Linked DNA regions of Homo sapiens: all the other regions are reported to be linked to region 5. The links are microRNA targets in miRTarBase. Many come from high-throughput screens and were not tested one by one. Region 5 holds a microRNA gene; each other region holds the end of a gene's coding sequence.
What was found. The annotated mature microRNA hsa-miR-6776-5p reads UCUGGGUGCAGUGGGGGUU and lies in region 5 at 3,136-3,154, opposite strand. An mRNA with a match to its seed (bases 2 to 7 or 8) in the 3' UTR can be bound and repressed. Matches are read on the target gene's strand: a 7mer-m8 pairs with bases 2 to 8, a 7mer-A1 pairs with bases 2 to 7 and ends in A, and an 8mer does both.

Region 1: the mRNA of OR2A4 is a reported target of hsa-miR-6776-5p. The part of its 3' UTR that is shown has no 7-base or 8-base seed match.
Region 2: the mRNA of RILPL1 is a reported target of hsa-miR-6776-5p. Seed matches in the 3' UTR shown: 7mer-A1 at 3,659-3,665.
Region 3: miRTarBase lists DAND5 as a target of hsa-miR-6776-5p. Seed matches in the 3' UTR shown: 7mer-m8 at 3,717-3,723 and 8mer at 3,395-3,402.
Region 4: the mRNA of ZNF703 is a reported target of hsa-miR-6776-5p. Seed matches in the 3' UTR shown: 7mer-m8 at 4,486-4,492 and 7mer-m8 at 3,749-3,755.
Region 6: the mRNA of TPGS1 is a reported target of hsa-miR-6776-5p. The part of its 3' UTR that is shown has no 7-base or 8-base seed match.

The regions. Positions count from the first base shown.
Region 1 is chr6:131,696,249-131,701,333 of GRCh38, forward strand. It overlaps OR2A4 (olfactory receptor family 2 subfamily A member 4), which reads right to left. Exons shown (of 1, transcript NM_030908.2): 1 at 3,396-5,085. The coding sequence ends at 4,221. The region is part of intron 15 of ENPP3 (ectonucleotide pyrophosphatase/phosphodiesterase 3); the gene reads left to right. Among named protein-coding and RNA genes, the nearest start is that of OR2A4, 2.6 kb to the right of the region's middle. RefSeq lists enhancers at 4,253-4,838, 4,839-5,085.
Region 2 is chr12:123,468,300-123,473,384 of GRCh38, forward strand. It overlaps RILPL1 (Rab interacting lysosomal protein like 1), which reads right to left. Exons shown (of 7, transcript NM_178314.5): 7 at 1,755-4,383. The coding sequence ends at 4,239. It also overlaps a transcript of SNRNP35 not described here. Among named protein-coding and RNA genes, the nearest start is that of SNRNP35, 13 kb to the left of the region's middle. RefSeq lists a silencer at 503-797.
Region 3 is chr19:12,972,795-12,977,879 of GRCh38, reverse strand. DAND5 (DAN domain BMP antagonist family member 5) reads right to left here. Exons shown (of 2, transcript NM_152654.3): 2 at 3,120-4,491. The coding sequence ends at 4,246. Among named protein-coding and RNA genes, the nearest start is that of DAND5, 5.8 kb to the right of the region's middle. RefSeq lists an enhancer at 2,942-3,448.
Region 4 is chr8:37,698,197-37,703,281 of GRCh38, reverse strand. ZNF703 (zinc finger protein 703) reads right to left here. Exons shown (of 2, transcript NM_025069.3): 2 at 3,263-5,085. The coding sequence ends at 4,608. Among named protein-coding and RNA genes, the nearest start is that of ZNF703, 5.0 kb to the right of the region's middle. RefSeq lists an enhancer at 3,624-4,135.
Region 5 is chr17:2,689,761-2,694,845 of GRCh38, forward strand. MIR6776 (microRNA 6776) reads right to left here and starts at 3,159; the gene lies at 3,101-3,159. It overlaps CLUH (CLUH binding protein of NUMT mRNA), which reads right to left. Exons shown (of 26, transcript NM_001366661.1): 17 at 4,720-4,804; 18 at 4,363-4,516; 19 at 4,140-4,279; 20 at 3,020-3,100; 21 at 2,811-2,936; 22 at 2,601-2,722; 23 at 2,244-2,337; 24 at 2,001-2,135; 25 at 1,849-1,922; 26 at 1-1,017. The coding sequence ends at 834. RefSeq lists enhancers at 1,450-1,958, 1,959-2,466.
Region 6 is chr19:518,937-523,936 of GRCh38, forward strand. It overlaps TPGS1 (tubulin polyglutamylase complex subunit 1), which reads left to right. Exons shown (of 2, transcript NM_033513.3): 2 at 1-718. The coding sequence ends at 487. Among named protein-coding and RNA genes, the nearest start is that of CDC34, 10 kb to the right of the region's middle. RefSeq lists an enhancer at 1-428.

The DNA.
Region 1 (5,085 bases), not on the chromosome of region 5:
AAATAAATTTCAGGCACCTTTTTAAGAACTAGAGATAACCAACAAAGTACCTGACCAAAGGATCTTTGCCCAGGTAGGAAGATAACAGCTATAATCAGATGGGATAACTATTGCACTAGAACCACGTACAAGGCTCAAGGAAGCAAAAATTACAGACCCAGGTGTGAATGTCAAGGAGCATCAGAGAATGCTTCCTGGTAGGGGTGGTTGCTGATCGGGGTTTGGAAGACTTATGATGGGATAGGATACGTGTTGCCATACAGCAGGTCTGCCCTGTGCAGTCTGTCGGTTGTACAGTGGCATCCTGCCAACAAGGTGAGTGGGAGTGGAAATGGAATCTTTGCTCAGCTCACCAAGCCTTAACAGGGGCTGCATTGGCAGGAGGAAGGGGATTCGTTTTTTGTGGTTGTTGTTGTTGTTGTTTTTGCCAAAAGTGCCATCTGCTTGCCAAGCCTTGAACACTGCCAGGCCGCGTCCTTCAAAGGCACCTTTTTTTCTCTCAATGATCTACCCAGAGCACCTTTTTTTTTTTTTTTTTTGAAATGGAGTCTCGCTCTGTCGCCCAGGCTGGAGTGCAGTGGCGCGATCTCGGCTCATTGCAAGCTCCGCCTCCCAGGTTCATGCCATTCTCCTGCCTCAGCCTCCTGAGTAGCTGGGACTACAGGCACCCACCACCACACCCAGCTAATTTTTTGTATTTCTAGTAGAGACGAGGTTTCACCATGTTAGCCAGGATGGTCTCAATCTCCTGACCTCATGATCCGCCCTCCTTGGTCTCCCAGTGCCGGGATTACAGGCGTGAGCCACCGTGCCGGCCTGAGCACCTTTTTAAAGCCAGCAGTAGCTCTAGGGCAAGGAAGGGTAAAGAGAAGGAGGCAGGTTTCCAGATGGAAGAACTAGATTCCTGCAGTTGCAAGTAGTTCTGCATTGCTGGAGCACTGAGTGTATGAAGCCATCATGTGTACAAAGGACCTTGTCTGAAATGACTAAGGAGTGTGACTTTGATCTTGAAGAAAGTAGGCTGTTGGTAGATACAGGTGGCTTGAGGTGAATATAGGGATATTTGCTTTTGGAGAGGTCCTTCAAGATGCTACATGGACGAGGATGGTCTAGCGCAGTGGTCCCCAACCCTTTTGGCACCAGGGACCGGTTTCATAGAAGACAGTTTTTCCAGGGTGGGGGCGGGAAGGGGGGGTGGTTTCAGAATGATTCAAGCGCATGACGTTTATTGTGCACTTTATTTCAGTTATTATTACACTGTAATAGATAATGAAATAATTATACAACTCGTTATACTGTAGAATCAGTGGGAGCCCTGAGCTTGTTTTCCTGCAACTAGATGGTCCTATCTGGGGGCGATGGGAGACAGTGATTGGTCATCAGGCGTTAGATTTTCGTAAGGAGCATACAACTTATATTCCTTGCATGGGCAGTTCACAATAGGATTCACCCTCCTATGAGAATCTAATGCCACTGCTGATCTGACAGGAGGCGGAGCTCAGGTGGTAATGCTTACTGACCCACCACTCACCTCCTGTTGTGTGGCCTGGTTCCTAACAGGCCACAGACAGGTGTGGGTCCATGGCCCAGGGGTTGGGGACCCCTAGTCTAGTGTGAAACAGGGAAGCCTGTTAGAAAGGTATGTAGTGACCCATTCAGCCCCAAGGGAGCCCATGAAGCCATGGGGATGGTGAAACTATATAGTGCATCACCGGGAAGGTATTATGGTTAACTTAGAAGCCACAGTTTCTAGGATAGTCTTGCTTTTATCATATTCTGTCTGATGTTTGTTCTCATTAGAACATAGATTTTTATTTCCAGCAGTGTTAAATAAGATTAGGGGTATGTGTGTGGGTGTGTGTGTGTGCGTGTGTATGTGTTTTGAAGGGAAGATTCAGAAGTTCTGAAGGCAGGATGATCAATTTGGGAAATTGTTCAAGGGGCTTATTAGAACCTACCTGAAGGGAACGTTTTTCTAGGACACAAAACACCGGTGCAAATCCACTGTTGAAAATGTTCTCCAATGTCTATTGTGAAATGGAGAGATTTTGAGTTCAGCTCCTTTCGGGAGGGGAGGAAAGAATCCTCTCCAAGGCAGCTTCCTCTAGCAGTTTCCTGCCTCTTGTGGGATGAGAAGATTTGCTGTCTAAGATATTATCATATTTATTTGTATTTTGCTGAGTTCTTTTACTGGATGTAAGGCAGTCCAAATGTTATTTGGAAATCTCCTATCAATCAATCATGCAATTTAGATAGAAGTTAGTTCCATACAGTGTGATCTCTGACTTGCTAAGGTTTAGAATAAACTCAAAGGGCAATGTGGCACAGTTATTAAGGTTTGAGAGTATGCCCATCTGTGCTCTGACTCTACACATCCACTGCGAGAAGAAACATCCATATAACACCAAAAACACTATATGAAAATCTTGTTGCACAGTAGGCCACCCATCAATATTACAGCTTTTCTTTTTCTTTTGATGTTCCAGGTGACCTGCAGGAAATGTAGAAATCAGGAAACTGACATACAAAAGAAAAAGTTAGTAGCAAATGGAAACAACTTTATAAAAATATAATATGGTATATAGTATAAAAATTATACTACAGTATACTTTTTACTTTATAAAAAGTATACCATAAAATAGTTTTAAAACTATTTTTATACTATATAAATAGTATAAGCAGTATAAAATAGGCTGGGCAGGATGGCTCATGCCTGTAATCCTAGCACTTTGGGAGGCCGAGGCAGGTGAATCAACTGAGGTCAGGAGTTTGAGACCAGCCTGGCCAACACGGTGAAACCCTGTCTCTACTAAAAATACAAACCCTGTCTCTACTGAAAATTAGCTATGCGTGGTGGCACATGCCTGTAGTCCCAGCTACTTAGGAGGCTGAGGCAGGAGAATTGTTTCAACCCAGGAGGCAGAGGTTGCGGTGAGCCGAGATTGCACCACTGCACTCCAGCCTGGGCTATAGAGCAAGACTGTCTCAAAAAAAAAAAAAAAAAAAAAGGATAAAATAGTTTTAGGACATAGTTTTATATCTAACATGATATGACACTGAGTTATTGTGTAAAAAGTTATTTTAAAATATAAAAGTAAATTCTTTGAACTAAGACAATGAGAAATTAAATATAAATGTTTAAGACCAAACTTAAACCTAGAAAAAACATCATCTCAAAATGACATGTTTCCCATGGCATAAGAAGCTGCTACAACTTTTAAGTGTGTAGGTGGTGGATTTTGAAATCTTTCTAGATTTTTCTTTCTTGAGAAATCTGGGTTTATCTTGAAAACCCTGAATTAGAAAAATTAGATTGATTTCATTCAGCGGCAAACACAGGAAGATGTATACTGAATCATATTTCTTAAAAATCTCAAATTTAGAAGATTGTGAGGTTGAATGAGGTCATCTCCTGAAGCTTCTATAGCAGGAATGCCGATCCATGATGAAGGACAGGATTGCATTTATTTTCTTTAGATGATCTACCATTGAACAGTAGAGACAGGGTCCCTCACGGTCTGTATCCAAACAGAACCCGGATTTTTACAGACTGATCGAGGCATAATGCTCAGAACTACATCTCTTTAGAGGCTCACTTTGCAAGGAAAAAAGAAATCATTCTGCCCTAGAAGGGGGCTGTAGGAAGTATTCACAATGAGTCAATTAATATCAAGATCTCCTGTTCCAGGAAACTGTTACTAAGTATTACAAAGGAAATTTTATGTGCTCACATAAGTTTAGAAAACACTGGCTTAAAGCTGGTATAGAATTATTCTTTCCTAGAGAAATATTTACAGCATTCACTATGCTAATATGAATTGTGATCCCTAGACAGAGGCATCTGATGTGAAGTAAGTCTCAAACTTATTTGACTATAGAACTTATTTTTAAAGTCCTCTGAAGGGACCAGTGTTTTGAGGAAAACATTATGGGAGGTATGGGACTGGATCAAAAGCTAATGAGGATATTGTAAGGGGTATTGTCCTGGTGTGGAGTGGCTGCAGCACAACTTGAAGAGATCAATTTCTAGAATTTCATCCCACATCTGCTGAAATCAGTCATTTAAAGGTAGGGCAGGAGATAGCTCCATTTTAAATAAATGTCTCAGATAATTCTCATGTCCATTGAGGGCAGAGGTCCCACCAGTGCAGAGATGGGTTAAGAACCGCTCAATGATGTAACTTCCTAGGTCACTGTCAGTCACAATGCCATAATCCTTTTCATAAAGCCCTTTCTACTCCCAGCACTCTCTTCAAAGTATTCTTCACTTCTGAGTTCCTAAGACTACAGATAAGGGGATTGAGCATGGGATTAAAGAGGCTGTGAAACAGCAGGAGATATTTCTTCTGCTCCTTGGGGTTCCCATATCTGGGTCCAACATACATGATAATGGCTGTGCCATAAACGAGTCCAATCACACAGAGGTGGGAGAAGCAGGTGCGGAAGGCTTTCCTCTGAACTTCCCTTGATTGGATCTGAAGGATAGCACAGAGGATGCACATATATGAAACTACAATTGTGGACAAGGGTCCCACCAGCCCAGAAATTGCTCCGGCCAAGACCATGTTCTCATTGATGTGGGTATCTGCACAGGCAAGTTTGAGAACAGCCAAGATTTCACAAAAAAAGTGATAAATTTTCTGGGGCCTACAGAAGGGTAAAGGTAGAAGTAACACAAGATGAATCAAGGATAAAAGGACTCCAGTGGTCCAGGAAGTCACCGCGAGGGTGATGCAGACTCTCCAGGTCATGATGGCCAAATATCGGAGGGGGTGGCAGATGGCCACGTACAGATCATAGGACATCACCACCAGGAGGAGACATTCTGTGACAGCAAAAGTGGAAAACAGAAAGGTCTGCATCATGCGGCCCGCAAAGGAGATGGGCTTGGCTGGATGCAGGAGGTTCACCAGCATCCGGGGCACCGTGTTGCAGGCGTAGGCGATGTCGACGACCGCCAGGTGTGAGAGGAAGAAGTACATGGGGGCGTGCAGTCTGGAGTCCAGTGAGATGAGCCCCAGTATGGTCCCGTTCCCCAGCAGGGTGAAGACGTAGAACAGGGAGAAGAGCCCAAAGAGGAGCATC
Region 2 (5,085 bases), not on the chromosome of region 5:
AGTGAGCCAAGACCGGACCACTGCACTCCAGCCTGGGCGACAGAGCGAGACTCTGTCTCAAAAAAAAAAAAAAAAAGAAAAGAAAAAAAGAAAACATGCACACTGAGGCTGGGCGTGATGGCTCACGGCTGTAATCTCAGCACTTTGGGAGGCCATGACAGGTGGATGGCTTGGAGCTCAGCAGTTCGAGACCAGTCTGGGCAACGTGGTGAAAACTTCTCTTTACGAAAAACACAAAAATTAGCCGGGTGTTGGTTTTGCTTGCCTGTAGTCCCACCTACTTGGGAGGCTGAGGCTGGAGAATTGCTCGAGCCCGGGAAGCAGAGGTTGCAGTGAGCTGAGATTGTGCCACTGCACTCCAACCTGGGTGACAGAGTAAGACCCTGTCTCAAAACAAAAAACAAAAAACTTGCACACTCAGACTCCAACCCTGTACATTTGGGCTTAGTGTTCTATGGGCTGTGGTGACTTTGAAAGAAAAACAATGGTACAGCCTCCATGGTAGGGACTTTGGCAGTCTCCATGAACATGACAGAAGCAAATACTCTTTGATCTAGCAATTCTGCTTCTAGTTTATTCTGTAGACTTTTGTGTGTGTGACAGTGTGCAACACTTTTTGAGAGTAAAGGATTGGAAGGAAGCTACCTGTCCATCAGTGGGGCCTAGATAAACATTAATAAATATCACCCCCATATGGTAGACCAGGGCATTGTAGGATGTTCATTAGCACCTTCCTTGGTGTCTACCCATAGATGACAGTATCCTCTCTCCCCCTCCAGTTGTGACAATCAAAAATGTCTCCAGACTGCCAAATGTCCCCTGGGGGGCTCAGTCATCCGTGGTTGAGAGCCACTGTCTTTTCTTTTTTTTTTTGAGACAGAGTCTCGCTCTGTCGCCCAGGCTGGAGTGCAGTGGTGCGATCTCCGCTCACTGCAAACTCTGCCTCCCGGGTTCAAGCGATTCTCCTGCCTCAGCCTCCTGAGTAGCTGGGACAACAGGCGCATGCCCCCATGCCCAGCTAATTTTTGTATTTTTAGTAGAGATGGGATTTCTCTATGTTGGCCAGGCTGGTCTCAAACTCCTGACCTCATGATCTGCCTGCCTCAGCCTCCCAAAGTGCTGGGATTACAGGTATGAACCACTGCTCCTGGCCATGAGAGCCGCTGTCTTATGTACTCATATGGAGTTATTGCTATACATTTTTTTTTCTTTTTTGAGGCAGGGTCTCACTCTGTCCCCCAGGCTGGAGTGCAGTGGTGTGATCACAGCTCACTGCAGCCTTGAACTGGGCTCAAGGGATCCTCCTGCCTTAGCCTCCCAAGTAGCTGAGATCATAGGTGTACACCACCACACCCACCTATTTTTTTATTTTAATTAATTTTTTGTAGAGGTGGGTTATTGCTATGTCACCTAGGTTTGTCTTAAACTCCTGGGCTCAAGTGATCCTCCCTACTTGACCTCCCAAAATATGGGGATTATAGGTGTGACCCACTGCACCTTGGCCCTCTCTAGGATATTTCAAGGGGAAAAAAGAAAAGCACAGAACAGCATGAATATATTATGCTGCCATTTAAATAAAAAAAAAAAGGAGGGCCAGGTATGGTGGTTCATGTCTATAGTCCCATCTACTCGGGAGGCTGAGGCAGGAGGATTGCTTGAGGCCAGGAGTTTGGGACCAGCCTTGGTGACATAGTAAGACCTTGTCCCTTAAGAAAAAAGGAAAGAAGGAATATATACACACATGTACATATATATATGCTTTTTGTTCTTGATTTTATTTTACATAATTGCATGTATAAACTTTCTGATGGATTGATTTTTCCTTTCTGTCCCGATTATCTAGCCTCTGATGTGCTCAAGAGCTGGATCTGCTGACTTATCAAAAAAGTGACATTTGGCCAGGCACGGTGGCTCACACCTGAATTCCCAGCACTTTGGGAGGCTGGGGTGTGAGGATCACTTGAGCCCAGGAGTTTGAGACCAGCTTAGGCAACAAAGTAAGACCTGGTCTCTACAAAAAATAATTAGCTGGGCATGGTGGTGCACATCAGTAGTACCAGCTACTTGGGAGGCTGAGGTGGGAGGATTGCTTGAGCCCAGGGGTTCATAGCTGCAATGAGCTATGATAGTGCCACTGTACTCCAGCCTAGGTGACAGAGTGAGACCCTGTGTCCAAAAAAAAAAAAAAAAAAAAGGCCAGCCACAGTGGCTCACACCTGTAATCCCAGCACTTTGAGAGGCCAAGGCAGGTGAATCACTTGAGGTCAGGAGTTCGAGACCTCGAGACCAGCCTGGCCAACATGGTGAAACCCCGTCTTTACTAAAAATACAAAAATTAGTCAGGTATGGTGGCACACACATGTAGTCCCAGCTACTTGGGAGGCTCAGGCATGAGAATTGCTTGAACTCAAGAGGCGGAAGTTGCAGTGAGCAGAGATGGTGCCACTATACTTTGGCTTGGGCAATAGAGCAAGACTATCTCAAAAAAAAGAGAGACATTTAGTGTTTAGGAAAGATAACCAAGAAACTGGCAATTTTGGTTACCTGTTGGAAGGGCAACAAAGGTGGCCAGGGGTGGGAGAGAAATTCATCAGTATACCTGCTTCTATACTCTTTGAGAATAAATTCTAATAATTCTAATGGGCACTCAGGTTTGAGAAACACTGCTCTAACGCAGCAATAATTACCCTGTCTGATCATTTCTTTTTTTCGGCAATCTGGAAGCAGAGTCCATTCTAGATTCTGCAAATTCACCTGATGGTTTCTTTCTTTCTTTTTTTTTTTTTTTTTAGATGAAGTCTCACTCTGTCGCCCAGGCTGGAGTGCAATGGCACGATCTAGGCTCACTGCAACCTCTGCCTCCTAGGTTCAAGGAATTCTCCTGTCTCGGCCTCCTGAGCAGCTGGGATTATAGGCATGCACCACCTCGCCTGGCTAATTTTTTTGTATTTTTGTAGAGATGGGGTTTCACCGTGTTGGCCAAGCTGGTCTCGAACTCCGGACCTCAAGTGACCCACCTGCCTCGGCCTCCCAAAGTGCTGGGATAGCAGGCGTGAGCCACTGTGCCCAGCCTCACCTAATGGTTTCTTAGCAAACTTCAGTAGAATGTTTAGAACGCGGCCCTGATAAACTTGAGTGCTGGTAGGAGGTGCTACCTCGCTCAATCTGTGAGCAACCAGCCCTGTGCCCTGGATGCTTGGCGGGTGGAGAGAAAGACAGTGTTATGTGGGCAAGCCTCCAACTCACCAGTTGCAGTAGAGCATCTGGCTCTCTGTCTGCTGCTATAGCCCTGTGAGTCAGCCAGACGTGTGGTCCCCAAGCCAGCTTCCCACCTAGCACCCTTGTTCTGCTACAGCTCCCCCACCTGCCCTCCTGCATTGCCTAGGATCCCACGCCCCGCTTTCAGTCTGCTCTGGGACATCTGTCTTCTTCTTTGCAGGGGACTAAGTATATGACTTAATGAATCCTAAAAGGAAAAAAAGATGTCAGGAAAAAAAAGTGCACACAAGAAATGTTGCAACATCTCATCCTTAGCAACTTTGTTTGGTTAGTACTGCATAACTCACAGCAGATTCCAAGGCACCTGCCTTGAACATTGCTACATGCTCTAGGCATTATCAGGAACGCAGCCAGGGTGCCTGCAAAGTTGTCTCCAGTTTCTGGGTAAGAGGACCATCATCCATATTGTCTGTGGCTTTGTGTCTGAGTTGGGCTACTGAGCCTGTGACTTCAGACCCCTTGTCTGCCTGATGGATACATTCTGTATAATACGTTACCATCACAATTTCATGAATGTAACTAATGAAGATCTAGCCCTTCCATGCCTCCTGCTGAACTATGTCACCTGTGATAATAAAACCTCTACACATAGCATTTTATACAAAGCAAGTCAAACAGCAATGATAGTGGCAAGTGATGTATTTGGCTTAAAGAAGCTTGTGTTACTGAAGTTAACGCAGAAGTCTGGCCTCCGTTTGTGGGATTATTAAATATATATCCTACGGGATCAGAGTCATCTATTAGAAACAGTGATAGCCCTGGGTATAAATAAACATTTCTTTAGAGTTTGGCGTCAGTTTTTCAATGTCCATCCTCAAATCAGACAGTCTGTTTGAGGGGTCAGTTTTCAGGGTGCATCTGCACCGAGAGGCTTGAGGCAGCAATGACCCCTGGGCTGCAGTTCGGTTGCAGGCGCTGGTGGCGGGCAGTCCAGGTTGGAGGGTGGAGATGGGCCAAGGTCACAGATGCTGCAGGGCTTCCTGTCCTTGCTCTGTGTAACCGTCATCGCGGTGGGTGTTTGCCCACTGTCCAAAGGACTCCTGGATGTGCACGTTTCTCTGTGTGTTGGCCAGGCGCTTCTTATCTCGGGAGAAGAAGCTAAACCTTTGGAAGGGAAAGCAAACACAGAAATGAGAGCTGACCCTTTGCTGTGCAAGTCACGTTTTTTGCAATGCCGGAGACATATAGCAGCAAACTTAGAAGGGAGCAAATCAATTCAAGGTGTGAAAGACAAAGTTGGGGGTGCAGGTCAAAGTTATTCCAAGAAAGCAGCAGGGTATTCTGCGTGTCATTTGGACACGGTACCTTGGAGGTCACGCGGTATGGGCAAGGCATGCATGCTGATGTGATGTGTGAGGTGTCTTCCACGTTAGCCGCTATGGAGGATTTATCCCGTTACCAGTGGAAATCAAAAGCTGCTGAAACAAATCTTGGGTTTCTTTAATTACCCTAATGACGCAGAGAAAGGAATACTTGAAAACCGTGTGGAATATAAGAGGATTCTGTTGTAAACGAATGAGTATTTCTAATTTAAATAGTTCTGTATTTGTTTAATGTCAGTCAGGAAACTGTGGCCCAGATTTCATGGACATTACTGCTTAGATGAGGCTAAAGGAAGTACTTAAGAAAAATGAACAATAAAACATATACTATGGGCTGAGCGCGATGGGTCACGCCTGTAACCCCAGCACTTTGGGAGGTCGAGGCAGGCAGATCACTTGAGGTCAGGAGTTCGAGACCAGCCTGGCCAACGTGGTGAAACCCCGTCTCTACTAAAAATACAAAAATTATCCAGGTGTGGTGGCA
Region 3 (5,085 bases), not on the chromosome of region 5:
AAGAGCCGGTAATCCAGATCCCAGGACCCAGGATCAGCATCTAGAGTCCAATCATACCGGGCTGGGCACGGTGGCTCATGCCTGTAATCCCAGCACTTTGGGAGGCCAAGGCAGGCAGATCACTTGAGGTCAGGGGTTCGAGACCAGCCTGACCAACATGGCGAAACCCCGTCTCTACTAAAAATATAAAAATTAGCTGGGTGTGGTAGTGGGCACCTGTAATCCCAGCTACTCAGGAGGCTGAGGCAGGAGAATCGCTTGAACCTGGGAGGCGGAGCTTGCAGTGAGCTGAGATTGCGCCACTGCCCTCCAGCCTGGGCAACAGAGTGAGACTCCATCTCAAAAAAAAAAAAAAAAGATTCCAATCATACCAAGATCTATACTCCAGATCCACGAACTCAGCCAGGCGTGGTGGCTCACAGCTATAATCTCAGCATTTTGGGAGGCCAAGGCGTGAGGATCACTTGATGCCAGGAGTTTGGGACACGATAGGCAACATAGCAAGACTTTATCTCTACAAAAAACTTAAAAATTAGCTGGGTGTAGTGGCACATGTCTGAGGTTGCAGTGAACTATGATGGTGCCACTGAAACCATACTCCGGGATTCAGATTCCAAAAATCTAGATCCTATTGCTCAAAACTAGAATCCACCAGACCCAGAATCTAGCTCCAAGAATTTAGAATCCAAAGGCTACCTTACAAAATTGAGAGCTTTCTTTCTTTTTTTTTTTTTTTTTTGAGACAAGGTCTGGCTCTATCACCCAGGCTGGAAAGCAGTGGCACAACCTTGGCTCACTGCAACCTCTGCCTCCCAGGCTCAAGCCATTCTCCCACCTCAGCCTCCTGAGTAGCTGGGGTTCCAGGTACACACCACCATGCCCAGCTAATTTTTTTTTTTTTTTTTTTTGAGATGGAGTCTTGCTTTGTCGCCCAGCCTGGAGTGCAGTGTCGCCATCTTGGCTCACTGCAACCTCCGCCTCCTGGGTTCAAGCGATTCTCCTGTCTCAGCCTCCCAAGTAGCTGGGATTACAGGCACGCGCCACCACGCCTGGCTAATTTTTATATTTTTAGTAGAGACGGGGTTTCGCCATGTTGGCCAGGCTGGTCTTGAACACCTGATCTCAGGTCATCCACCCGCCTCAGCCTCCCAAAGTACTGAGATTACAGGCATGAGTCACCACGCCCGGCGCCCAGCTAATTTTTAATATATTTTTGTGGAGACATAGTTCTGCCATTTTGGCCAGGCTGGTTGCGAACTTGTGAGCTCAATGAATCCACCTGCCTTGGCCTCCCAAAGTGCTGGGATTACAGGCGTGAGACTCCTCACCCAGCCAAAATCCAGATTCTTAAGCCGTCCTCAGAGCCCTCCAGATCACAGCCACGTAGCAGGAGTTGGCGAAGATAGAAACAAAGGGATAGCTGAGGAGCTCAGCAGTACTGCACATGGCCTCTCCCAAAGCTGATACCCCTCCCAACCTACCCCTGTGCATTTACACACACACACACACACACACACACACCCCATCAGGTTGGGTGTGGTGGCTCACGCCTATAATCCCAGCACTTTGGAAGGCCAAACCAGAAGGATGGCTTGAGCCCAGGAGTTCGAGACCAGCCTGGGCAACACAGTGAGACCCTGTCTCTACAAAAAAATAAACAAAATTAGCTGGGCGTGGTGTCATGAGCCTGTAGCCCCAGCTACTCGGGAGGCTGAGGAGGGAGGATCACTTGAGCCCAGGAGTTTGAGGCTGCAGGGATCGGGCCATGATCACTCCAGCCTGGGTGACAGGGCGAGACCCTGACTCAAATAAGAATAATAATTAATACTACTAATAAAAGAAAAAGACACACCATCATCCAAAGAGACACCCTCCTCCATACGTTCTTGTCCCAGCATGCAGATGCACGAACATCTGTGCACCCACAAAATCTCAGAGCTCCGCCCCCAGCCAGCCCACCAAACTCCTAGACACACAGCCACCATGGAGACACACACAAACCTATGATTTCCAGCCCTGCACCCGGACACACTTTAAGAATTGTGGAGACTGGGATGGGTGTGCACACACACACACATACACACACAGACATAGTCCCCTAAGAAGCTCCACGCCTGGCAGCCACGCAGCCCCTGGGAAGGGTACCCCAGGGATGGGGTTCACCGTGCAACCCCGTGCCCACCCCAGCCGTCCCCCGCCTGGCCGGCTGGCGGGCTTTAATACAGATGCCAAACTCATAATTGTAACTGAGGGTGACAGGGTCACCTTGAGCCCCAGATGCTCGTGCGGTGACAGATGGCGTTGGCAAACCTGATTAGCGGCCCCCGTGCCAGCGCCTGTGGCACCTGCATCCCCTGCCCCTCCCCCGCTCCCCCAGCACTCATTACCCACCCATTACTGGGCCTGGGGGGGCGGGGCAGGGGCCGGCTGGCACTGCCCGGGAGGGGACAGGGACTCTGGGGGCTCCCCTGGCACCAAGGTTCCCAGCTGGCTCCCCTGGCTGGCAGGAGGTGGGCACAGCAGAGGGAGGGAAGGCAAATGCCTCATGCCCACCAGAGGGGGGCTTGCCCATGGTGCCAGGGCTGAGCTGCCCACTCGGACACTGCCTGGGGTTTGGCACAGAACTCTGGAGGGAACAGGGATGGGGCAGCCCCCCCAGAGCCCTTCATGACCCTCCCCTCCAGGGCCCTTCGAGCAAGGGGCCTTGGGAGCTGCCTGCCTGTCCCGTTCCCATCTCTCTGTGAGGCCTGTGAGGTCAGGGGTCTCAGGCTCCCACGCCCCACTGGCCCATCTGTTTCCTCGGGTCCCCTCCTGCTCCCCTCACCTGAGGCCTTCCTTCCTGAGGCAGGAAGAGGGCTGAGAAGGGCCTGGCCGGCTCCCCGCCCCACGCTCCGGGGGGCATTTGGAGGCAACACTGACAACGCCACATGTCCCTGCGTCTGTGCCAGACAGGCCCATCTGCCAGGGCCCTGGTTCCAGCCGCCCAAAGCCAGGCCGCCCTCGCCCGCTGAAGACCCTGAGCCCCAGCTGGGGAGGGAGCACTCAGATGCCCACACCCTGTCATGGGGCCACCCACTCCCAGGGAACCCCAGTTGGAGGAACAAACAGATGCACATATAGACAGCTGGACTCAGCCAACCTTTATGGTTTCTGTGGAATGCCATGCCAGGCGTGGGGCTCTGTGGAGACTCAGGTGGGGGGTCTGAGAGGGACACAGCACCACTATCAAGGCAAGAGGCAGCTGGGAACACGAGGGTCCTGCCTCTGTCTCAAGGACCCCAGGATTTCCCCCAGCAGCTGTCTGCCTGCCTGCTTTGGTTTGCGTTTTTGGTTTGGGTTTTTTTTTTTTTCTTTTTTGGTGTCCCTAGGCTGAGGTCATCACTGTGTCTCTCGGTCTGGGTGGGGCCATCTACCCTCCCTGCAACTGGGAGTGTCTTTGACCTCATTCTATAAGAGACAGTTCAGCCTAATGATTAACAGTGGATTTGATCCCAGCACTTTGGGAGGCCGAGGTGGGCAGATCACCTGAGGCCAGGAGTTTGAGACCAGCCAGGCTAATATGGTGAAACTCTGTCTCTACTAAAAATACAAAAATTAGCTGGGCATGGTGGCGGGTGCCTGTAGTCCCAGCTACTCAGGAGGCTGAGGCAGGAGAACTGCTTGAGCCTGGCAAGTGGAAGTTACAGTGAGCCAAGATCGCGCCATTGCACTCCAGCCTGGGTGACAGAGAGAGACTCTGTCCTTAAAAAAAAAAAATAATAAGGCCAAGGCAGGCAGATCACGAGGTCAGGAGATAGAGACCATCCTGGCTAACACGGTGAAACCCTGTCTTTACTAAAAATACAAAAAATTAGCCGGGCGTGTTGGCGGGTGCCTGTAGTCCCAGCTACTCGGGAGGCTGAGACAGGAGAATGGCATAAACCCGGGAGGTGGAGCTTGCAGTGAGCTGAGATTGCGCCACTGCACTCCAGCCTGGGCGACAGAGCGAGACTCCATCTCAAAAAAAAAAAAAAAAAGTGAGTTGTCAATCATTGTGTGCTGTGACTATCAGTGGTGCAACTCCAGGACGGGCACTGTGTCTACTGTCTGGGGAGCAGGGTGAGGACTCTGGGGACCTGTCTGCCTAACCCTGCATCCCTGGTCTCTTGACCCAGAGTACATCATCCAGGTCCACGTCTTTCTTGGTCCATCTCCCCTCATTTCTCCAAGGTGCGTGTCTCCGTGCACCCATCCACGATGCTCAGTTCATGCTTTTGGGCTGCAGTGACACCCCTCGATCAGCATGGTGGATATCTTCACCCGTCGACGGGAGGCTGAGCTGCCAGTGAGACACCACAGGACCACGGGTGCCCAACGCTTGCGAGCAGGCATACAGCTGTTGCACAGGACTAGTGGGGTGGGGTCCGAGCCAGGGATGTAGAGAGAGGAGCAATGACCAAAGCACAGATGATTTCGGAGGCGTATGGCTGAGCAGCCGGGCCGGGAGAACACCTGGGGCCGGAGGCATGGAGACGGTCAGGGTGGCGGAGTTTGGGGCCAGAGTGGCGAGGATAATCACCTGTCCACTTCCACCCCACCTTGACAGGCATGGATGCTGCAGCCAGGCTGCCTGGGTTCAAATCCTGACTCTGCTGTCTCTTGGCTGAGACATGGGGCAAATTACTTAGCCTCTCTGAGCTTTTGTTTCCTCACCTGGAAAATCATTGAAATTCAACAAGGGCCGGGCGCGGTGGCTCACGCCTGTAATCCCAGCACTTTGGGAGGCCAAGGCGGGCGGATCACGAGGTCAGCAGATCGAGACCATCCTGGCCAACACGGTGAAACCCCGTCTCTACTAAAAATACAAAAAATGAGCCGGGCGTGGTGGTGGGCGCCTGTAGTCCCAGCTACTCGGGAGACTGAGGCAGAAGAATGGTGTGAACCCAGGAGGCGGAGCTTGTAGTGAGCCGAGATAGCGCCACTGCACTCCAGCCTGGGGACAGAGCGAGACTCCGTCTCAAAAAAAAAAAAAAAAAAAAGAAAAGAAATTCAACAAAGACAGCCAGGTGTGGTGGCTCAAGCCTGTAATCCCAGCATTTTGGGAGG
Region 4 (5,085 bases), not on the chromosome of region 5:
GCTTTGTACTGCCATTGACGGCTCCCGGGCAGCCATGTGCAAAGTTTCCCCCAAACCTCGACACCCACCTGCATTATGTGAATACAAAGGCTTCATGTTGGGTTTTATGAGCTTTGGCAGATTTAACTGGGGTTGGGGAGGCAGGAGGCTCTCTGGCAGGGAGGTAAGAAGATGGGTTGATGTGATTTGGCTTTGTTTCCTTTAGGTGACTTTGGCTTTCAGGAGAAAGTTTGAAACCCGGCACATTCCTCTTTGTAAATGATGTAACACATTAATGCACAGCACATTATGAAAATGGTAATTCAAACCCATAGTGCTCCAAATTAAACCATACATTATCGGATGCACTCAACCATCTATTTTGCAAAAAGACAGGATGAATGAAATCAAATCAAACAGAAAACTGGAGTGCAGCTTCCCCTACAGAATGATTAATAAAGTGTAGAGCCACAGGATTATTGTAAGATGAATTCCACCGTAACCCAGACATACATCAGGAGGGAGTTAGTTCATATACCCAGAGATACAATCACAGTATGCTAGGTAGGGCAGAGCAATTATGGCTGCAGAAAGATGGGGAAGGGCCCCACACCTCCCGCTTGGGCTATGAATTTCTTAGGAGATGGGTTTGCGGGTGTACAGTTGGGAAGTTAAAAACTTAACACCACATGATTTTGTTTGAGTCCAGCCTATATCCAAGGGTGAGTCTTTCCCCTCTTTCTCCTCCTCCCTTCCTCCCATGGCTGCCACAAGGCCACAAAAATAACCAGGCAAGAGGTGTGAAAATAGGACCTGGAGCCAGGAACGTCCAGTGTCTCAAGTTCCAGCCCTGTGGCTTCCACCCTTCCTGGTGCTTTGGGAACACCGGCCCCATTTCTGGCGCCTGGGACAGATTAGGAGAAAGAGGCGGAGGAGGGCTGGGAAGAGGAGGTGGAGAAATGGAAGGTGGAGGTGACCCTCAAAGAAAGGGTTGCTGGAGGCATTAATTATTCAAATAAGCACTGGATAGGGGAGCACCACCTCCATTAAGATGGCAACTTTGTTTAATGGGAATTAAGCTATTGAAAGTAACAAACTTTTCATCAGCTTATTAAAACTGTCACATTTCTTAGGTGGGGAGAGCCATCTTTTCAGAGTAGAACTGGACACTCCAGACTATGTGACCTGCCCTTTGCGGCCACAATGGTAGTTGGGGGCAGCCTATTCCCACCAGGCCCAACAGTGAACTTCCCAGTCACCAAAGGCCACCAATACATTTTATGGGGGAAACTCTGTAGTCTAAGGAGTTCTCTAACTGCATTCTTACACCTAAGGTATAAGCCAAACACCTTTTAGAACAGTTTCTTTTGGTATAGGGAATTTGCTGGTTGTGCGTCCCTTCCTTCCTTCCTCCCAACAAGAGGAGCCCTTTGGTTTGTAGATAGGGAGGTCTGAAGACTTGAAGTGTAAGAAAGCAAAGTTTAAGTCGCCCTACAGAGGGAGCAATTTCCATCATTTTTAGCAGGCATTAAAAAACATAGTGAGGGGGTGGGTCTCTGAAGGAAAGAGGGGCCTTCAGAGGAAGGGAAGATGGCAAAGAAATAATAAACAACGAACAAAACAACAGAAAAAGAAACAATAAAGCCACGAGTCGCTACATTTAGTTCGTTTAAAGATTCGGGCCAGATTGAACCCCGAGAAATTGGATAATGCTGGTTTCCCAGGAAGACCCTGATCTGGTCTCAGGGCACTTTCTCTAATTCGGGTTTCCCAGTGCCCAGTGGTAGGAGCACCCCAGGATCCCTTTCCTTTTGCTAGATCCAAAGATTTGGTAAAACACACACACACACACACACACACACACACACACACACACACACACAAACACACACACACACACACACACACACACACACACACACGCCCTGTCTGTCGTCGAGTTTGTGGACAACCAAAAACAGCGCAGAGAAACCGGCCCCATCCTACGCACTGCACTTGACCTCGGGCCACAGACGTTTCAAAAGCATGCACCTTTCAGAGCACGAACTCCCAAGTCGCATTCCTTACAGAAAAAGCAAACAGCACAACCCCAACGACAGATCCCACGAGGAGCGCGGCCAGGAAGCGGCGCAGGAGGCGGTTTTGCAGAGCGTCCCATTGGCCCCGCGCGCCCAGGCCCTTGCGCAGGGAGCAAGCGCCCCCGGCCCGATGGAGCGGGGTCCTGGCGTCGGGCAGCCGAAGTCTGAGCCGCCGTGCCTTGGCGGGCGCAGCCCGCTCTCGCTGCTGGGGGTAGGGCAGCGAGTCTGCATTGGGCTGGACGTGGCTGGGCCTCCCAGAGCTGTCCCTTCTCTCCTCCCGCCTTGGACACTCGCGCAGGGCCTGTCTATGGTACAGGGGGCAGGCTCCCTGGCCAACACGTCAGTAAACAGCACCCGCCCTCTCTTGCCCGAGGATGCAGAGGCCAGTGTCAGTCGTGCGAGCTCAAGAAAATGGACGAGCCAGGCCCAGGGGCCCGGCTCCTCCGGACTGAGAATGGCTTCAAGGTCTTGAGTCATCGTCGCATCTTCTCAGCAAAACCCAAACCCTGTTTCGAAGTTTCCGGGGCGCAGATGACCCAGGTCGACAACCCAGCGATGGCTGAGGGGAGCCCCCAAGCCTTGAGAAGCAACCCTCTCAGCAGGTGCCTTTACCCTCTGGTCAGGAGAGAGGAAACGCCCCACAAAAACAGCAGGTAGGAATCCTTCGCGTTCAGAAGATGAGAAGAACCAAGGTGCCGTCGGGGCTAGTGCGGGCTGCGCCTTCTCTCCGAGGCCTGTCGCTCGTCTTCCTGCCACCAGGTGGCGCCAAAGGCGTTTCGTCTCTGCCCGCCAGGCCGCCGGGCTCCAGGACTGCGCTGCTGGAGTCTCTGCCGGAGCCCTTGGTGCTGGGGTCCTGGGGTCCCTTCTTAGCCCCCTTAGCACGTCGCATCTGGGCCCAGAGGAAAATCCACTTTTACACACACCCTCCACCCTGGCCCCAGGAAATGTCAAGGCCTTTGAAGTGAGGCTGGGAGCTACATAACCAACTGGGGAAAAAAATTAAAAGGTGGTTTTATGTTATTTGTAATGCGTTGGCAGAAGTTTTGTTTTTTCTCCCCCATTTCTTGAGGAAAGGCATTAAACTCGTCCTTGAACGGAAATCACAGAAGGAAACCATAAGGCATTTTAAACAAGAATAAAAGAAGGGCATCTGCTTAGGTGTCTGGAAGAGGGTGGGCGAGGCAAGAGAGAAAAACACCACGGTGTGAATATAGCCAAGTATTCCATTTATTAACAAAATAAGTCTTACCAAGGGAGAGCTCTGTTCGTCCCAAACAGGCCCCGCAGCCCCCGCGCTGCCGCATCAGACCAGAAGGAGGGAGGAGTGGGGAGAAGACCCCAGTCGCTGGGGGGTCCACTCTGGGGGCTCTGCCGGGCCAGGCCTAGGAGAGGGCGGGGGCTGCTGTGATCCGAGAGCTCCCTGACGCCCCAACCTTCCCCGAACGCAGCTAACGAGCTCGTGACATCCGCTGACATCGCCACCGGTCTGCTTTGGAGGGATCTAGCGAGAGTCACCTACCCCACCCCTACTGCCAGGGGAGGGGTCGTTGCCCCCACGAGGGAGAGAAAAACAAGGACTATAATGCACTTCGCAAAATGTAAGGGGCCGGCTTCACGCCAGCGGGGCCTTCTGGGACTTTGAATTCAACCAGGTGAGCGCTCCAGGTGCCCCGACAGGCGCACTGTAGCCACTGGGTGTTAGGGGCGGGAGTCTGGAAGGTGACGGTAGACGGCCACTTGGGCCCTTCTGGGGGCGAGCCTACTGGTGGGGTCAGGGCTCTCCGTGCTCAGAGCAAGGTAGAGGAGCAAGGCCCTACTTTTGGGGGGCAGGGTCCAGACCAAGGACCCTATGCGCGGAGGGTGGCGGGGGAGGAGTCCCGGAGCAGTGTACCAGGTCAATAGAGCTCCAGGGCCCCTGCCACCCAGGTGGCCCCCTCCACCCCCAAAATGAGTTACAAAAAAAACCTCCTCTCTGTTACTTGTACAACAAAGGAAAAAACAAAACAAAACAAAACAAAAAACAAAAACAGAACCGCAAATGGAAGGAAACAAGAGGGAATGAAGGGGGAAGAGGGAAAAAGAGAAGGCGGAAACGTAGTTTTAAGTTAAGACTCATGCAAGAAACTCCCCAGGAAGGGAAAACAAAACGTCTAGAAGAACCCAAAGACCCCAACTCTCCCTCAAACCAAACCAATCAAAACCAAAAAAAGAGGAAAAGGAATAAAAAATGTAAAACTTATATCTAAGAAAAAATAACAGAAAGGAACAGGGGCGGGGATCATGTCGTTATTTGTGGGATTAATATTATTATTTGGGAGAACACAGACTTTTTGCATACCATTGACTCATGTGGGCCGTTAATGCACTTATATTCCCAGCTTGTAAGCTAACATTATAGTAAATAAATACACAGTCCGGTGGGGAAGGGCTGGGTGGGGAATCCCGGCAGGGTCAAGCAGTAGTGGAGGTTGCAGCGGCGACGGCAGGTGGGGAGGGAGGAGGAGGGAGAGGGAGGAGGGTGAGGGGGCTGGGGTGGAGGAAGAGCTGTAGTTACTGGTATCCCAGCGCCGAGGCTGAAGCTAGTCTCTGTCCATACAGCGCGTATGGCGAATAGTAGGGTCCGGCTGTGGGGAGGGACGGCACGGCCAGGCCCCCCGCTGTGGATAAGTGGCTCTTGCCATAGGGGTGGTACCGGCTTAGGCCCAAAGTGTGTGGATTCCGCAAGGACAGCGACCCGGGGCTGCCGGGGGCGGCGGGCGGGGGGAGGTGCAGATGGCAGGAGGCGGCGGCGGCGGCGGCGGCGGCGGCGCTGCCCAGGCCCGAGGCCCCGGGGTAGGCGGCCAGAAGTTTCTCGGCTCCCGGCAGGGCCGTGTGGGTCCGTAGGTGGCTGAGCAGCTCCTCCGAGGTGGCGAAGCGCTTGTCGCACGGCCCACTGGCTGCCACCCAGTTGCAGCTGTGCGGCAGCGGTTCGTTCTGCAGCATGAAGCCGTAGGTGTAGAGCGGGTGGCCGGGGAGCGCGGCCTGGGCG
Region 5 (5,085 bases):
CCGGGATCCGTAATTGGGCCCCGCTTCCCCCAGCCTCGCCCCCGGCCCACTGTGCGTTCGGCAGCTCAGGTTAAAACTGAGGGGAGGGATACATTCAGACCGCAGGCCCCAAGGCTGCGCCCAGCTGGGTGCAGGGAGTAGGGAGCCGAGTCAGAGCCACCCACTGGGCTCTGAGGGCCCAGCAAGCCAACCCCGACCCCTCCGTTCGGGAGCAGCAGCCAGACCACGCCAGTCACAACGGCGGCTCCCGTCCCGCCCCAAACTAAAGTGCACCCCAGCCCTCCAGCCCCGCCACAGAGCTCCGGCTCCCCACCCCTCCCCACCGGGTTTTTCGGCCTAAACCCTGAACTTTCAGACAGGCTGGGCCCGGGGGTGGTGGCAGCCAAAGCAGCAGCCATCATGTCGACCATACAAATGACCTGAGAAATCCCGTCTGCGCGTCACCCACTCAGGAGTCACCCACTCAGGACTGGCTCGGGCTATGTACAGGGGAGAGGAACGGTCAACACTCACAGCCAGGGGCGCACTCGCACACGCCGGCCGGACGGCGGGGGCCGAAGCAACACCTGCCCCCCAGCCGGGAACTGATGGCCGCACACGCCATTCACGTGTCTCCAATGGGGCCTCTGCATCATCTATTCATTGAACCAGCGCAAAAACACCTTCTGCGGGGCAGGCAGGCCAGGCTCCCAGGAGGACACGGGGGTGGGGTGGGGTGAGACGTGGAGGAAGAGGGCCTTGCTTCCTCTTCCGCCCGCAGGCTCGCCCCCTTCTCCCGCAGTCGGGCTCCCTGGTGACGGGGCCGCTGGCTGGCTGTCCGTCTGGCTCCCTCTCTATCCCTGCACGCTCGGAGAAGGGTCCTTGGCAGCCGGGGGCTGGGAGCCCAGGTCTCCTGGGGCCCCCGCTGGCGCGGGCTCGGTAGCCATGGGCTCCTCGGCTCTATCCCTGTTTCTGCTGGCCTCCTGGAGCTGGTGCCGCCGCGCCACCTCGGCTTTCAGATTCTCCAGGTCTTTTTGGCTGAGGATAAGGGTGGGGATGGAGGTGGCTCTCAGAGGAGTCCTGGGGGCTCCACCCGCCTCCCGGCTTTCCTGTGGGATAAGCTCAGGCTCTGCGCTCTATTCAGTGGGGAATGTGTGTGAACAAGCGCTTCCCTCCTGAAGGCGGAAGGTCCCTGAACACGGAGAAGGTAAGGACCCCGCACCTGACCCGGCCTCGGGGCTCCCCTCGCTGCCCTCGGTGGCCTCCCTCCAGCGCAGGGGGAGGAAAGCGGAGTTGGGGGGCTGCTGCCACGCCTTGCTGACCAAATCCACTCCCCACAGGAGGCCACACTGCTTGTGGCCACCCCGGGGAGCCCGGGGCCTGCTCCTCAGCCCCCCCCCGCCGCAGGATGGGAAGCGTGGGGAGGGAATGAAGCCGCTTCTTAGGGACTGGTGGGAAAACGCCAAGATACTTTGTGTGAAGCAGAAACACCAAGGTCTTCACTCGCGGAATGCGAGGATGCTGGGGAAGATAAGCGGGGCGGGCCGGGCGCGATGGCTCACGCCTGGAATCCCAGCACTCTGAGAGGCCGAGGCGGGCGGATCGCAAGGTTAAGAGTTCGAGACCAGCCTGGTCAACGTGGTGAAACCCCATCTCTACTACAAACACAAAAATGAGCCGGGCGAGGTGGCGGACACCTGTAATCCCAGCTACTGGGGAGGCTGAGGCAGGAGAATCGCTGAACCCGGGAGGCGGAGGCTGCAGTGAGCCGGGATGGCGCCGCCGCACTCCAGCCCGGGTGACAGGGCGAGACTCCGACTCACAAAAAACCCCCAACCGGGAGACACTCGAGTGGGGCGGAGGCCTCACCTGAGAGGAATGAAGAGGATGCCGTTAATGACGTTCAGCTGCTCCAAGACGCTGGCCATGCTGGGGGCCGTGAACTGCGGGGCGGGGAAACCAGCGGTGAGCGGGGCTCCCGCGCTCGCCGGGCCGGAGGGGCCGCTCCGCCCCGGACTCACCTTGAGGGGCGGGATGTTGGCGCTGGAGCCGTTGCGGTAGATCTCGTTCATGGTGCGCTGCAGGGCCACGGCCTGCTGGGTCAGGCACTTGAGGTACTCGGAGCTTTCCTTGGTCTTCTCATGGTCCTCGCCCAGCTGCGGGGAGGCGGGAAGGGATCAGGCCCCCCCGTGCCCCCGCGGCCCCGCCCCCGCCCCGCCACGCCCCCGCCCCGCCCCCGCCCCCGCCACGCCCCCGCCGCGCACCTGCGTCTTGTAGATGGTGTAACCCTCCTTCTCGTGCTGCAGGGCCGACCGGAACTCAGCTTTGCTCTCGTAGACTCGGGCGACAAGGTGGTGGCTGCCGGGAGGCGCGGCGCGGGGCGAGGGAAGGGCATAAGTGGGCTGGGTGTGGGGGCCTGACTCGGGGGCCCGGGGTCTCCCGTAGATCCCTCCCTGGAAGCCACCGAGGGGAACAGCAAGTCCAGGGCTCAGGGAAGAGGGGGAGGTCGAGAGAAATTTTCTCGGGTGGAGGAAGACAGGAGCACTGGGTCTCTTCCCCGCCCCCGCCGGCTGCCCCGCAGGCCTCCGCCGGCCTTGGCGTTTGGACGGGCGGCCCCTCACCTGAGGGCCACCTTGAGGGCCTTGGGCCCGTGGTACTTGGTGCTGACGGCCAGCGCGTTCTCCAGGAAGCGCAGCGACAGGTCGTACTCCATCACCCCGTGCAGCACCAGCCCGATGTTGTTCTGGGGGCAGGCGGTGGGGGGCCCTGGTCAGCTCCCGGTCCCCTGGGATGGAGCTGGGTCCCTGCCGCCCCCCCGCCCCAGCACTCACGTCCAGCAGCGCCATCTCGGGGTGGTCTTCCCCGAACACCAGCAGCATGAGGTAGCGGGCGCGGTACAGCAGGCTCAGGGCGGTGGACAGCTGGCTGCTGGCGAAGCAGTACAGGGCCAGGTGCATCTGCGGGCGGGGCGGAGACAGGTCAGGGTGGCCGCGGACCCAGCCCCTCGCATCCCCCGGCGCGGGCGGCACTCGCGACTCACGTATTCCTGGATGGTGTTGGGGTGCTCGGTGCCCATCACCCGCTCGCTCATCAGCACCGCCTTCTGCTGGTTACTCAGGGCCTGGGGAGAGACAGTGGTGGTTGCCGCGGCGTGGGAACCCCCACTGCACCCAGAGCCCGCCTGGCCCCGGCCCAGCAGCCCACGGTGCCGCTCTGCAGGCTCCTGTCCCCTCCGGCTGCGCCCAGCACAGTGCAGCAGGGGGGAGGGGGATCAGCAGCAGCTGCTGCCACACCTTGAAGGGCAGGTCACGCTCCACAGAGAGCTCCACACACCCATGTCTTACACCCAACAAAATCTCCACAAACACCCAAATACAAACCTAAAACTACTAAAAATGTTACAAAAAAAAAAAAAAAGCCTGAGCAGGGGTGGGTCCCTTGAGGTCAGGAGTTTGAGACCATCCTGGCCAACATGATGAAACCCCATCTCTACTAAAAATACAAAAATTAGCTGGGTGTGCTGGCTCACGCCTGTAATCCCAGCTACTCGGGAGGCTGAGGTGGGAGAATCGCTTGAGCCCAGGAGGTTGAGGCTGCAGGGAGTCGATATCACGCCACTACACTCCAGCCTGGGTGACAAAGCAAGACCCTGTCTCAGAAACAAACAAACAAACAAACAACCCACCCATTTATAAACAGAAGAAAAAACAGTCCCTTTGCAGGGAGTAGGGATCCTAAGACATGCTAACCCTGAAACAGCCCTGGCCAGGCAGGGCACCCAGAACCCCACCACAGCCTCCACCAGCCCCGGCCAGGCAGGGCACCCAGAACCCCACAGCCTGCACTGGGCACAGAGGACGTGGGAGCTCGGTGGCATGCTTCCTGCCCACTCACGGAGTCTCAGGAGGCGTCCTTGCTGACGCCCTGTGGGGGGGTCCCCTGCCATCGCCTCCCAGAACTGACCTCACCGCAGCACAGGGTGCTCCTGAGCTCTCCCGCTCGGGACACAGTTACAGAGGGGTGGAGCCAGGGGTGGCCTGGGCAGAACCAGCGACTTCCTGGGGTCTCCCTGGACTCCACCCACTCCTCCGTCAGGGGCCCCCTCACTCCCCATCCCCCAACACGAGGCCAGGCCTTTGCTGCCACAGCCCAGAGGGTACCTCTGCGTAGTCGCCCATGATGTAGTGGAGGCGGGCGAGGAGGCGCAGGCAGGCGCAGGTCTCCACGTGCATGGCTCCGTAGACGTTGTTAAACAGGTTCAGGGCCTCATTGATGAGCTCACAGCCCTCCTTCAGGAAGCCTGCAGGGCACCCCCAGGGGTGGCAAGGTCAGGACGGGCCATGGGGAACCCCCACCTCCACCCAGCCCCACCTGGCCACACACCCTGCTGCACTTTGGCCTGCCCGCTCTGGAAGAAATGGAAGGCATCCGAGGCCTTGGGGTTGACGTGCTTGACCACGGGGAAGATGTTGAGCACGTCCTCCTCGGTGAACGCGGGCTTGTGGCGACTGTCGAAGCTGTACTCCTTCAGCAGGACCTGGGGGGCAGCCCCCCCACCACAGGAAGCCTCAGGCCCAGGTTCAGCGGGTTGGCACCTCCCAACCCACCAACGCTTGCGCACAGACGGCTACCGTGAAAAAGCCACTTCCCCTGTGGCCCTGGCCAGGAGTGGGAGCCTGCAGCAGGGACGCAGCGGGGACACAGCGGGGACACAGCGGGGATGCTGTGAGCCATGCCCACCTGGATCCCTGTTTTCAGCGAGATCTCCCGCAGGAGCGTTATCTTCTGCAGGCCGTAGGTCTCCACAGCCTGGTCCACGGTCTCACTGAGGAGGGAGCAGGGGGCCTGAGCAGCCCAAGCACCGCCGGGCCCCCCCAACACCGCCCCACCCAGCTCCCCAACGCTGTCCAGCCCGGGCCCCCAACACTGCCCCACCCGGCCCCCGGGAGCCTCCCGGCTGCCCTCACCCTCCAGCACCCAGTGATCTCCACAGCTGCTCCCTCTTCTCTCTGACTCCCTGGCCTATGACCACAGGCCTTAGACGCCATCTGGGAGCAGGTGGTGGCCGCCTCATCTGCCCAATCCCACCCACCCCACCGCCCCTGC
Region 6 (5,000 bases), not on the chromosome of region 5:
CGGCGGGCGCAGGAAGAGGCCGGGGCTGGACGGGCGCACCTACAGCGAGCTGCTCAGGCGCATCTGCCGGGACGGCCAAGCCCCCGAGGAGGTGGTGGCGCCGCTGCTGCGCAAGGTGCAGTGCCGTGACCACGAGGCGGTGCCGCTGAGCGTCTTCCGCGCGGGCACACTCACCTGCTTCGTGCTGCTGGAGTTCGTGGCGCGCGCCGGCGCGCTCTTCCAGCTGCTGGAGGACTCGGCCGCCGCCGTGGCCGACCGCCGCGTGGGCCAGGCCGTGCTGGACACCCTGGAGGGCGCGCTGCAGGCCAGCGACGCCGCCGCGCCCGCGCGCTTCCTGGAGGCCGGCTCGCGCTTGGGGCCCGACAGCCTGGCGCTGGCGCTGGACCGCGCCGTCGGGGGGCGGCGGCCCAGCGCGCCCATGACCCGCGAGGAGTTTCTGGAGAGGGCCGCCGCGCTCTTCATCGCGAAGGTCAAGCCGGTGGGCTGAGGCCCGTGGGCCGCGCGGATCCGGGATCTGCGCTGGGGGGTCCCCGCGTGCGGGGCGCGCGGAGCCTTCCCTTCGCCCTGGTGAGGCCCTGCCATAACCAGGCGCCCAGCCCTGCGGAGGAGGCCGGGGCTCCCAGGAAGCGGACGCCCGGTCCCCACACAGCGCCGCGGCCGCCCCTCCACCCCCGCGGGAGCCCCTGCCCCACGCTAATAAAATGTGTTGCGAGGCTGACGCTGGTGTGTATGCGAGCGCCCGCCTCCCAGCCCCGGTGCCCGCAGAAGACGCTTTTCCCCAGCAGGTCACCCACGGCCCCGGAACCGCGGCGACTGGAGGCTGGATTCGAGGCCGGAAACGCCGGGACCCCTGGACCCGGCCTGGTGGGAGCAGCGGAGGGGGACGCCCCACGGGGCCCTGCGGAGCCTGAAGCCGGAGAGCAGGCGGCTCTTCTGGAACGCAGGGCCCGGGCCCTCCAGCCCCGCCCGGCCCAGGTATCCTCCCTGAGCCTCAGTCTCCCCAGATGTCAAATGAAGAGGCCAGCTGGGCAGATGGTAGTGACATTGGTGAGACAACAGCCCTAACACTTCCCAGGAACTGAAGTGCCTCATGTGATTGATTCCCAGGCCCAGGCAGCGGAGGTTACACCCTCAGCAAGGGCTCAGCTGGGATCTGCGCCCGGCCTGCTCCAGAACGCAGCCCACTCGCCACCGGTGGGGAGGGTCGTCCGGTATCCCCCAGTGCCCACCACCACCAACCAGAATCACTTCTCAGACTGCAAGAGCGAATCCAGCCGGGCGTGGTGGCTCACACCTGTAACCCCAGCACTTTGGGAGGCTAAGGCGGCGGATCACTTGAGGTCAGGAGTTCAAGATCAGCCTGACCAACATGGTGAAACCCTGTCTCTACTAAAAATACGAAAAAAAAAAAAAGCTGGGCTGTGGTGGCAGGCGCCTGTAATCCCAGCTACTCAGGAGGCTGAGGCAGGAGAATAACTTGAACCCAGGAGGCAGAAGTGGCAGTGAGCCGAGATTGAGCCACTGCACTCCAATCTGTGCGACAGAGTGAGACCCTGTCTCAAAAACAAAACAACAACAACAAAAAAAAAACAGGCCAGACGCAGTGGCCCACGCCTGTCATCCCAGCACTTTGGGAGGCAGAGGCAGGTGGATAACGAGGTCAGGAGATGGAGACCATCCTGGCTAACATGGTGAAACCTTGTCTCTACTAAAAATACAAAAAATGAGCCGGGCGTGGTGGCGGGCACCTGTAGTCCCAGCTACTCTGGAGGCTGAGGCAGGAGAATGGCGTGCACCGAGGAGGCGGAGCTTGCAGTGAGCCGAGATCGCGCCACTGCACTCCAGCCTGGGTGACAGAGCGAGACTCCGTCTCAAAAAAATAAAAAAATAAAAAGTGAATCCAGAACTCCAGCTCCAGTTGCTGGCAGGTGACTTCACTCCCTTGGCCTCAGTGTCTCCTGTTAAATGGGAGTCCCCACAGCCTGTTCTGGTGGAGGGGGTCCAATCGGACATAGAGAACACTCAAGCCTTGTTTCTCCCCTGCTGTCACCGCCACATCACAGTCATCCACACAGAAAAGACTTCTGTGACCACATGTGGGAGCGTTTTTTCCCACACACCAACCAGCAGACGCCAGCCGGGTGTCCTCTTAATTCAGCTCTGACGCCTTCTACCCAGAGATAGTGTCAGATCCCACAGGCCGAGGGCTCAGTCCCCGAGCCTCTCCCTCTTCAGACACCAGTTGCGAATCTGGGCTTCCAGGACTTCGGTCTGGCCGGGTTCAAGTTGGGGTTCCCAGCACCCCTTTGGGTTCAATTAATTTGCTGGAGCAGCTCACTGAACTCGGAAACACTTGTGTTTCCTGGTTTACTATAAAGGATGTGGCAAAGATAGCAGAAGAAGGGACCACAGGTGAGGTACGTGTAGGGTGGGGATTGGAGTGCCATGAGGATGCACAGGGCACCATCTCAGAGCTTCCAGGCATCTCCACATGTTCAGCTCTTGGAAGCTCCCCAGAACCCAGTTCTCTAGGGTTTCGTGGTTTTTTGTTTGTTTGTTCATTTTTGAGACGGAGTCTTGCTCTGCCACCCAGGCTGGAGTGCAGTGGCGCAATCTCGGCTCACTGCAACCTCCCCCTCCTGAGTTCAAGCGATTCTTCTGGCTCAGCCTCCTGAGTACCTGGGATTACAGGCGCCCACCACCACACCTGGCTAACTTTTGTATTTTTAGTAGAGACGGGGTTTCACCACGTTGGCCAGGCTGGTCTCAAGCTCCTGACCTCAGGTGATCCACCCACCTCAGCCTCCCAAAGTGCTGGGATTACAGGCGTGAGCCACCACACGCGGCCTAGGGATTTTATGGAAGCTTCATGATGTCAGCATTACTTCCCCAGGGGTATAGGGCAGGACCCTCTTTGGGGAGGGTCCCAAGACCCGTAATCGAAAAGGTAAGATTAGAGCTCTGCAGCCCAGAGGAGGGCGGGAGATTATTTCCTGAGGCCTAACGAGCTCAGCAGTGCAGCAAAAGACTGCAACTAGGGCTTCAGGAGCTATGATCCGGGAACTGAGGAAGAAAACTACTCTCTATTCTAACACCACACACGGGAACAGAATTTTATTTTATTTTAATTTTTTGAGACAGAGTCTCGCTCTATCACCCAGGCTGGAGTCCAGTGGCGTGATCTCGGCTTACTGCAAGCTCCGCCTCCTGGGTTCACACCATTCGCCATTCTCCTGCCTCAGCATCCCGAGTAGCTGGGACTACAGGTGCCCACCACCACGCCCAGCTAATTTTTTGCATTTTTAGTAGAGACGGGGTTTCACCGTGTTAGCCAGTATGGTCACGATCTCCTGACCTCATGATCCGCCTGCCTCGGCCTCCCAAAGTGGTGGGATGACAGGCGTGAGCCACCGTGCCTGGCCTTCTTTTTTTTTTTAGACGGAGTCTCGCTCTGTCACCCAAGCTCGAGTGCAGTGGCTCAATCTCGTCTCACTGCAACATCTGCCTCCCAGGTTCAAATAATTCTCCTGTCTCAGCCTCCTGAGTAGCTGGGATCACAGGCACGTGCCACCGTGCCTGGCTAATTTTTGTATTTTTAGTAGAGATGGGGTTTCACCATGTTGGTCAGGCTGGTCTTGAACTCCTGACCTTGTAATCCACACACCTTAGCCTCCCAAAGTGCTGAGATTACAGGCATGAGCCACCGTGTCTGGCCGGGAACAGAATTTTTAAATTTTTACAAGTTCCACGATGGCAGAGACCACTCCTGTCTCCCAGTTTCCCAGCACTGAGCTGGGCTTAGGATAGGTGATCAATGAACCAATGAATCAATACAGGAATGAATCCTGGCAAATCGCCTGTTTCCCAAAAAAAGCCACAATAATGGTTCCACTCCCCGCCGCAGAGGCAGATGGAGAGGTAGAATCCGCATCCCCCTGCGGGACTGGAGCTCCTTCCAAGGCAGGGCCCCTGCGGGACGCTCACCCTCTGGACTGGGCACCAGCTGCGATGCCTGCGCTGACGGCAGCTCCTGCTGTGCAGACTCAGGAGCTGAATAAATGACAGTTGTGGTTCTAGGCTACCAAATTTGGGGTGATTCATTACGCAGCAATGAGTAACAAAGATTAATGAAAGGTGCCCACTCCATCCACAGGTGCTGTTAGGCTACCACAAACGCCCCTTACAGGTGTGAGCCTTACAGGTCATACGCCAGAGCATTTCAGTGAGCACGGGCCGGGGGCTCAGCAGCATTTCCGGTGAGCACGGGCCGGGGGCTCAGCATTTCCGGTGAGCACGGGCCGAGGGCTCAGCAGCAATTCCGGTGAGCACGGGCCGGGGGCTCAGCATTTCAGTGAGCACGGGCCGGGGGCTCGGCATTTCCAGTGAGCACGGGCCGGGTGCTCCGCAGCATTTCCGGTGAGCACGGGCCGGGGGCTCAGCAGCATTTCCGGTGAGCACGGGCCGGGGGCTCAGCATTTCCGGTGAGCACGGGCCGGGGGCTCAGCAGCATTTCCGGTGAGCACGGGCCGGGGGCTCAGCAGCATTTCCGGTGAGCACGGGCCGGGGGCTCAGCATTTCCAGTGAGCACGGGCCGGGGGCTCCGCAGCATTTCCGGTGAGCACGGGCCGGGGGCTCAGCGGCATTTCCGGTGAGCACGGGCCGGGGGCTCAGCGGCATTTCCGGTGAGCACGGGCCGGGGGCTCAGCGGCATTTCCGGTGAGCACGGGCTGGGGGCTGAGCAACAGGACACAAAACACAGGAGAGCCGGGCGCGGTGGCTCACGCCTGTCATCCCAGCACTTTGGGAGGCCGAGGCGGGCAGATCATGAGGTCAGGAGATCGAGACCATCCTGGCTAACACGGTGAAACCCCGTCTCTACCAAAAATACAAAAATTTAGCCGGGCGCGGTGGCGGGCGCCTGTAGTCCCAGCTACTCGGGAGGCTGAGGCAGGAGAATGGCGTGAACCCGGGAGGCAGAGCTTGCAGTGAGCCGAGATCGC